Linked DNA regions of Homo sapiens. The protein of the gene in region 1 purifies or fractionates together with the protein of each later gene. This does not show direct contact. Each region holds a gene or a part of one and is shown in the gene's direction. Other genes may lie near its edges.

What was found.
Region 2: the proteins of MCM8 (region 1) and ORC2 purify together in Homo sapiens (affinity purification with western blotting; one study listed by BioGRID). This does not show direct contact.

What each region holds. Positions count from the first base shown.
Region 1 is NC_000020.11:5,953,327-5,957,360, forward strand, and holds part of MCM8 (DNA helicase MCM8), read left to right. Parts: intron 1-1,281; coding exon 1,282-1,364; intron 1,365-1,775; coding exon 1,776-1,925; intron 1,926-3,799; coding exon 3,800-3,903; intron 3,904-4,034. UniProt on the Homo sapiens protein: Component of the MCM8-MCM9 complex, a complex involved in the repair of double-stranded DNA breaks (DBSs) and DNA interstrand cross-links (ICLs) by homologous recombination (HR).
Region 2 is NC_000002.12:200,908,477-200,911,660, reverse strand, and holds the end of ORC2 (origin recognition complex subunit 2), read left to right. Parts: intron 1-273; coding exon 274-360; 3' UTR 361-2,684; downstream 2,685-3,184. UniProt on the Homo sapiens protein: Component of the origin recognition complex (ORC) that binds origins of replication. DNA-binding is ATP-dependent. The specific DNA sequences that define origins of replication have not been identified yet.

The sequences.
Region 1 (4,034 bases):
CTCCCTTTGATAATTAGGAATACCAATTAACCTACATCAGTCTGTATAGGTGCAGGGAACTGTCTTTTTTGTGCTGTTAAAATACCCATTTGTTTCTTATGTCTCATGAGGGGTGTGTGTGTGTGTGTGTGTGTGTGTGTGTGTGCATACTTTTTATTTTTTTTTGAGATGGAGTCTTGCTCTGTTGCCCAGGCTGAAGTGCAGTGGCGCGATCTTGGCTCACTGCAAGCTCTGCCTCCCAGGTTCACGCCATTCTCCTGCCTCAGCCTCCCGAGTAGCTGGGACTACAGGCACCCGCCACCACGCCCGGCTAATTTTTTCTGTTTTTAGTAGAGACGGGGTTTCACCGTGTTAGCTAGGATGGTCTTGATCTCCTGACCTCGTTATCCGCCCGCCTCGGCCTCCCAAAGTGCTAGGATTCCAGACGTGAGCCACCGCACCCAGCCGCATACTTTTTTTTTTTAGGAAAACTAGACGTTTGAGGTCCAGGACCCTCCCTGCCCCATACCAGGCATGCAGTAGTCATTTTGTGAATGAATAGAGTACTTTACAAATGTTTTCTTTATTGGAAATCTGTTCGTTTTTTTCCATCAATAGAATCTGTTTCATGAATGATCTTTTGTTCCTTTAGGATGTATTAGCCACCAGCACTCCCATTGCTCCCCTAGCAGATAGCTCAGAACACTATAAGTGATCTTTGGACAGTCCTAAAGATGGAGTTCAAGAGGTGCCTTAGCCTTCACCATCTGTGCTTCCAAACTACTTTATTGTACTGTTCTTCTGTGAGAGACATATTTGAAAATGTAGAACTTTAGAGTGTTAAAAAAAAAAAGGCTTTTCAGTTTTGCCACCAGGGTCAAGTGTTGGTCTGTCTCCTGATCTCAGGAAAGACTGTGATTGTGATTGTCTTCAGCTCTGTCAGAGTAAGAGCTTAGTTTATGTGTCTGGCTTTGGCTTTATTATAATTTTTAGTTTAAGCTTATTGTCTAAATTATCTGAACTAACATGTCCTATTAGGTGTCAAAGATGCAAAACAAAGTTTCCCAGATAGTGGGGCTTTTAGAGAGAGAGAGTTTCTGTCTGCATTTCACATTATGCAAACCTAAATTTGTTTTAGAATCTTAAGTTTACATTCTATACTAGTTCTTATATGAATGTAATCAAAATACAAAGCAATTAGAAAAAAATCATCTACCATGTATATAGTGCTGCTTTTGTCTCATGAAAAATGTGCATGTACCTGTGTGATTATTTGTGCTAATGCCATATTTGTTGGATTAGTTTACAGCGATAGCTCTCCTTTGATTGAGAAGATTCAAGCATTTGAAAAATTTTTCACAAGGCATATTGATTTGTATGACAAGGTAAGATTCCTCTACAGCAAAGCTACCAGTCATGTGCCATCTTACCAATGTATTCGAGGTACTTGTGATTATGATCGTAGGCACTGGAGTCAGACTTCCTTGGTTCAGACCTCAGTTCTGCCACTTACCTGCAGTATGGACTTTGATTAATTACTTCTCTGTGCCTCAGTTTTCTTTCATTTGGAGATAGAGGTATAAATACCTACCTCAAAGGATTGTTAAGAGGCAGTAATACATTAATATATTTAAAATATCAGAACCATGCTTGGCACAAAGCTTATACTTATGTCATACTTACCATTATCACATATAAACATTGTATGCTTTCTCAAAGTCTATAATAGAATGCTCAGTTAATGGTAATTGACTACAGAAAAGCAATTATTGTTTTCATACTTTTATATTTTATAGGATGAAATAGAAAGAAAGGGAAGTATTTTGGTAGATTTTAAAGAACTGACAGAAGGTGGTGAAGTAACTAACTTGATACCAGATATAGCAACTGAACTAAGAGATGCACCTGAGAAAACCTTGGCTTGCATGGGTTTGGCAATACATCAGGTAACTATTTGTCTTATGCATACTTTTGTCTAAACTTTTTTAATGTTTGCACACACATGCACACCTTGTCTAAGTTTAAAGGAAGATTTTACAGTGACTGTACTTTCTATAAGAGATACTTAGCTTTTACGAAAAGATGTTGGCTAGAACTGAGAGGTTGCAGTTCCGTTCTGAAAGATACCATTCATTCTATATACAACAGCTTATCTAAATGAAATATTTACCTCCAACTTATTTGGATTTGCTTAATCTTGCTAAAGATTGTGCAGAAATTAAACTTTGCTTTCAAGAAGTTATACAATCTCATAGGGAAGATAAAACAAGGAATCATGGTGTTATCGGTTATGAACTTAGAGCAAAAAAGAGCAACCTTAGATTTAGGTTCTGTGGCATGAAGCAAACCACTGAGTGTCCCTGTATATCAAATGTAAATAACAGTTTGTACTGTGCTTGCCTGAGTTTTTTTTCAGGGTCAGGTAATACAACATATATGAAAACATTTTTAACTTTTTAAATTTTTTAAATTTATTTTTTATTTATTTTTTTGAGATGGAGTTTCACTTTGTTGCCAGGCTGGAGTGCAGTGTCATGATCTCCGCTCACTGCAACCTCTGCCTCCCGGGTTCAAGTGATTCTCTTGCCTCAGCCTCCCGAGTGGCTGGGTGCACCACCATGCCCAGCTAAGTTTTGGAGTTTTAGTAGAGACGGGGTTTCACGATGTTGGCCAGGATGGTCTTGATCTCTTGATCTTGTGATCCGCCTGCCTTGGCTTCCTAAAGTGCTAGGATTACAGGCATGAGCCACCTTGCCCGGCCAAAAACATTTTTTAGGCTAGCAAACAGATACATGCTTCAAGGTAATGAATAGCAAATCTCAGGACAGGCATACACAAAGTGCTGGGGCATTCAGAGGGGCATTCTTCTACCTCTTGCCTGTGCTGTCCATTCAACATAGAATCCCCTTCCCTTCACATGGACAGATTATTTGGGCCTAGCTCAGTTGTCTGTCTGTAAAACCTTTCTCATGACCACTTTTCGAAACTTGCATGGTATTTTGTCTGTACATCTTTATGGTCCTTATGACAATTACAGCTGTATATATGCATCTTATTTTGCCTCTTAGGTTGCCAGCAAACTGCTGTGTACAAGTGGTATTAAATGTTTGTTTGTTGTTTATTTATTTATTTATTTTGAAATGGAGTTTTGCTCTTGTTGCCCAGGCTGGAGTGCAATGGTGTGATCTTGCCTCATTGCAGCCTCAGCCTCCCAAGTAGCTGGGATTATAGGCATGCACTGCCACACTTGGCTAATTTTTGTATTTTTAGTAGAGATGGGGTTTCACCATGTTGGTCGGGCTGGTCTCAAACTCCTGACCTCAGGGGATCCACCCACTTTGGCCTCCCAAAGTGCTGGGATAACAGGTGTGAGCCACTGCGCCCAGCGTGTTTATATTATTTAATGTTAAATGCCAAGGGAGTGAGTATTAGGTATTTTAAAGGTCATTTTTATTTTCTGTGTCTTGATTGGTCAGTGAATATAGAGAAATAGGAATGCATTTTTTTTTTTTTAATTAGTATCAAGAGGTGATGGTTTTGGGGACTAATGTAAGGGCTTTTAATGTTAGGTTTAGTTGGGACAGAAAGTAGCAGACTGGGATGCTGGAGTTTTTCAGCACAGGGACAGCAAAATCCAATGTAAAACATCCACTATAAAGTAAGTAGTCATAATTAAATATTAGATATTTAAAGGGCTGTTAAAGTTTTCTGTTTTTATTCTGTTTCTGTCCATAAACTTTATATTCTCTATAAAAATAGAGTTCTGTATAAAGAGGATGTTTTGTTTTCCAACTTCAGAGTAAATGTCTGTCCTGTTTAGGTGTTAACTAAGGACCTTGAAAGGCATGCAGCTGAGTTACAAGCCCAGGAAGGATTGTCTAATGATGGAGAAACAATGGTAAATGTGCCACATATTCATGCAAGGTGAGGAATTTGATGTATTAAAGTATTACTTAGAATGGGACATTGAAGGCCATTTAAGAATGAAAACGCTCATTTTATAAAAATGAGGAAATCAGTAAAAAGGACATGAGTTCCTTGCCATCTCATTGATC
Region 2 (3,184 bases), on another chromosome or scaffold:
GGCAGGAAGGTGAAGAATGATCTAAAGCACAATGAAAAAAATAAATACCCACCTACCCACCCTCTAGTTAGTTGTCTTTTCCACTATAAGGATGTTTAACTATAACTCCATATATTTAAGTATATATGACTGTGTGCCCTTTTGCCTTTTTATACTTATATATTTAAAAATTACATCCAAGAAATAAATTCATTTTTTCTTTAGCCTCTACAATAGAAGAGTTCATATACCTCTTATGAATGACTAACGTACAGGTATTCTTAAATCTTTCAGGGAACTGATGGAGTAGAGTATTTATTAATTCCTGTTGATAATGGAACATTGACTGATTTCTTGGAAAAGGAAGAAGAGGAGGCTTGAAGCTTTCCTTTATTCTTGAATCTCCCATGGAAGGGTTGTACCCCAGCTGCCACTCCTCTAGTTGAAAGTGTTGTGTTTACATCTGACATTAAATTATTTTTCCAGCATACAAGATTTAAATTTGGGAAGGGGGGGATGTCCTCAATTAGAACTTTTTGATCAGCCTGGCTGGTACCGTCTAGTACTATGCAGCGGTCCTCAAGTTGGAGAAAATGTGCCTTTCATTCATTACCTCTCTGGAGACTTCTTGCTGGAATGAACAGTGTGCTCAGGGACTATTTGGAACTGGATGTTTTTGAATTATTTTATACTTAGAGATATTCTGAATTTTTTGAGGGCCTTTTAACACTCCCCGAGCTGATTGTTTGCAAGTGTGTTTGTTCCAGAGTGTGGAAGTATAAAGACATGGGCATCACGTAAATTGGTTTTGTTTGCTATTCTGTGTGTCAGAACCAACGAGTGTAATGGAGAGGGCAGGTCATCTCTTATTGTTTCTAAAACAACTTAAAAGGTGTAGATTGGGAAGAGGTGAGTGATCCAGCTTTCTCCTTTTGGATTGAGGCTATGTACTTGGTGGGGGCAGGGGAGGGAATATATTATAATACTATTCAGTTGGGATAATGGGAAAAACAGAGTATATAGGGTATCTACCCAGCCTAGAAAGCACAGGAACAATACGTCATATATTTGGAACAGTTATTGTCTGTGCCATGACCTTCATGATACCAGTGAGAAGCCAGGCTAGAGAAATAAAATCCTGAATTACATTTTAGTAATTGTTTTCAAGACAACAAAAAATAAAACATTTCATTATTCTTGTATATTGACATATTTTTCTTTTCTTGAACAACATGCAGGTGAGTAGCATATTAATGGCTGGCTGTAAATTAATTTTGATTCCTCTGTCAAGTAGACCTAAAACTCACTGTAAGATATTTCAGTTTTTTCCTTAAAGTGATGATTTCAAACCTCCTGAATATTTGCGCGAGACTTTTTTCTTAGGAAAGAAAAAAGGCTCACCTTGGCTACTGTTGTCAGCTTACAGTCATCACATACCCCCTGAAATATTTGACACTTGGAAATGAAGTTCTTCCTGAAAATATCACTGCAATAAAATACGTACTACGTCAGCATTTCTCACTCATTTCTTATCTTGTAAACCTCTTTCATGAAAATATTTCCAAAAATCCTTGGAATTTTTAAATAATTTTTCTTGTGGCATATAATTAAGTAATTTTGGCCAGGCATAATGGCTTATGCCTGTAATCACAACACTTTGGGAGGCCAAGGCAGGAGGATCTCTGGAGCCCAGGAGTTTAAGAACAGCCTGGGCAACATAGTGAGACCTTGTCTCTACAAAAAATTTAAAAAATCATCCGGGCATGGTGGCCCATGCCTATAGTCCTAGCTGCTGTGGAGGCTGAGGCAGGAGGATCGCTTGAGCCCAGGGGTTCAAGATTACAGTGAGCTATGATTGTGCCACTGCACTTCAGTCTGGGTGCAGAGCAAGACCTTGTCTTTTTTTTTTTTTAAATCATTTTTTTAAAAAGTAATTTTATGTTAAGTCCATGGGCTTAGTCTTTTTTTTTTTTTTTTTTTTTTTAGATGGAATTGCACTGTCATCCAGTCTAGAGTGCAGTGGCGTGATCTAAGCTTACAGCAGCCTCCACCTCCTGGGTTCAAGTGATTCTTGTGCCTCAGCCTCCTGAGCTGGGACTACAGGCACACGCCACCACGCCTGGCTAGTTTTTGAATTTTTAGCAGAGATGGGGTTTCACCATGTTGGCCAGGCTGGTCTCGAATTCCTGACCTCAAGTGATCCTGCCTCGGCCTCCCAAAGTACTGGGATCAGGGGTGAGCCACTATGCCTGGCCAAGGGCTTAGTCTTAAATATAACCTCTAGTCAAAATGTTTAAACAAATTTGTACATAAATGTGATTTAAAAAAATTTTTTTAATAGTACCAAAGGATATTCAGTGAAAGTGAGTTTCCTGCCCACTCCCTGATCCACCCAGTTCTTTAGGCAACCACTGATAGCATTTTCTTAAGTATTCTTCCAGATATCGTCTATGCATATGTAAAAGTATCTGTCTTTCTCCTTTTAAAAACACAATTGGTAATATATCATACTTGCTGGTTTGCACCTTGCTTTTTTTGCTTAATATATCTAGTTTATAATGACCTAATGTGCAAATTTTTGCATCTGCCCTAAATATCTACTGGTTTATTTTTATAATTTTTGTGTCTATACTATTTGCAAGCAGTATGTGTCAGTAGACTTTATTATTAATAAATAAAAAGCCAATTTGGATAGAATCACTTTATAAATTGGTAGTGCTGGTTTTTTACTAAAAATATTTTTAAGTTCTTCAAAAGAAGTTTTATGAGTGCATCTTACAGATCTGGTGAAGATCTTGGCACATTATTGTATGCTGTTTGTTGACTTGTGTCCGCATCGGTGTCCCTGAGGCTCTAGCAATTATGTCTTGACTGATAAGGCTCTAATTTCTTCTACTGTGTTAACTTGCTTCTGGCAAGATTGAACAGATCTACTGAAACCTTGAAAGGTTTTCTGGGTACTCTTAATAAAATTGCAAAAAAAAAAAAAAAAAAAGGCACAGGAGATGTCAAACATTTATTGTTTATAAATTTGCCACAGTGCTGAATTTATTGTGCAAGGACTGCTAAATTAGTTCTCACAGTAGTCCAGAAACTGGACTTTCTTAGCATTGTTTGTTATTTTAATACATGATCACTTCACTCATATAAAAGATCAGTGGAGGCCGGGCGTGGTGGCTCACGCCTGTAATCCCAGCACTTTGGG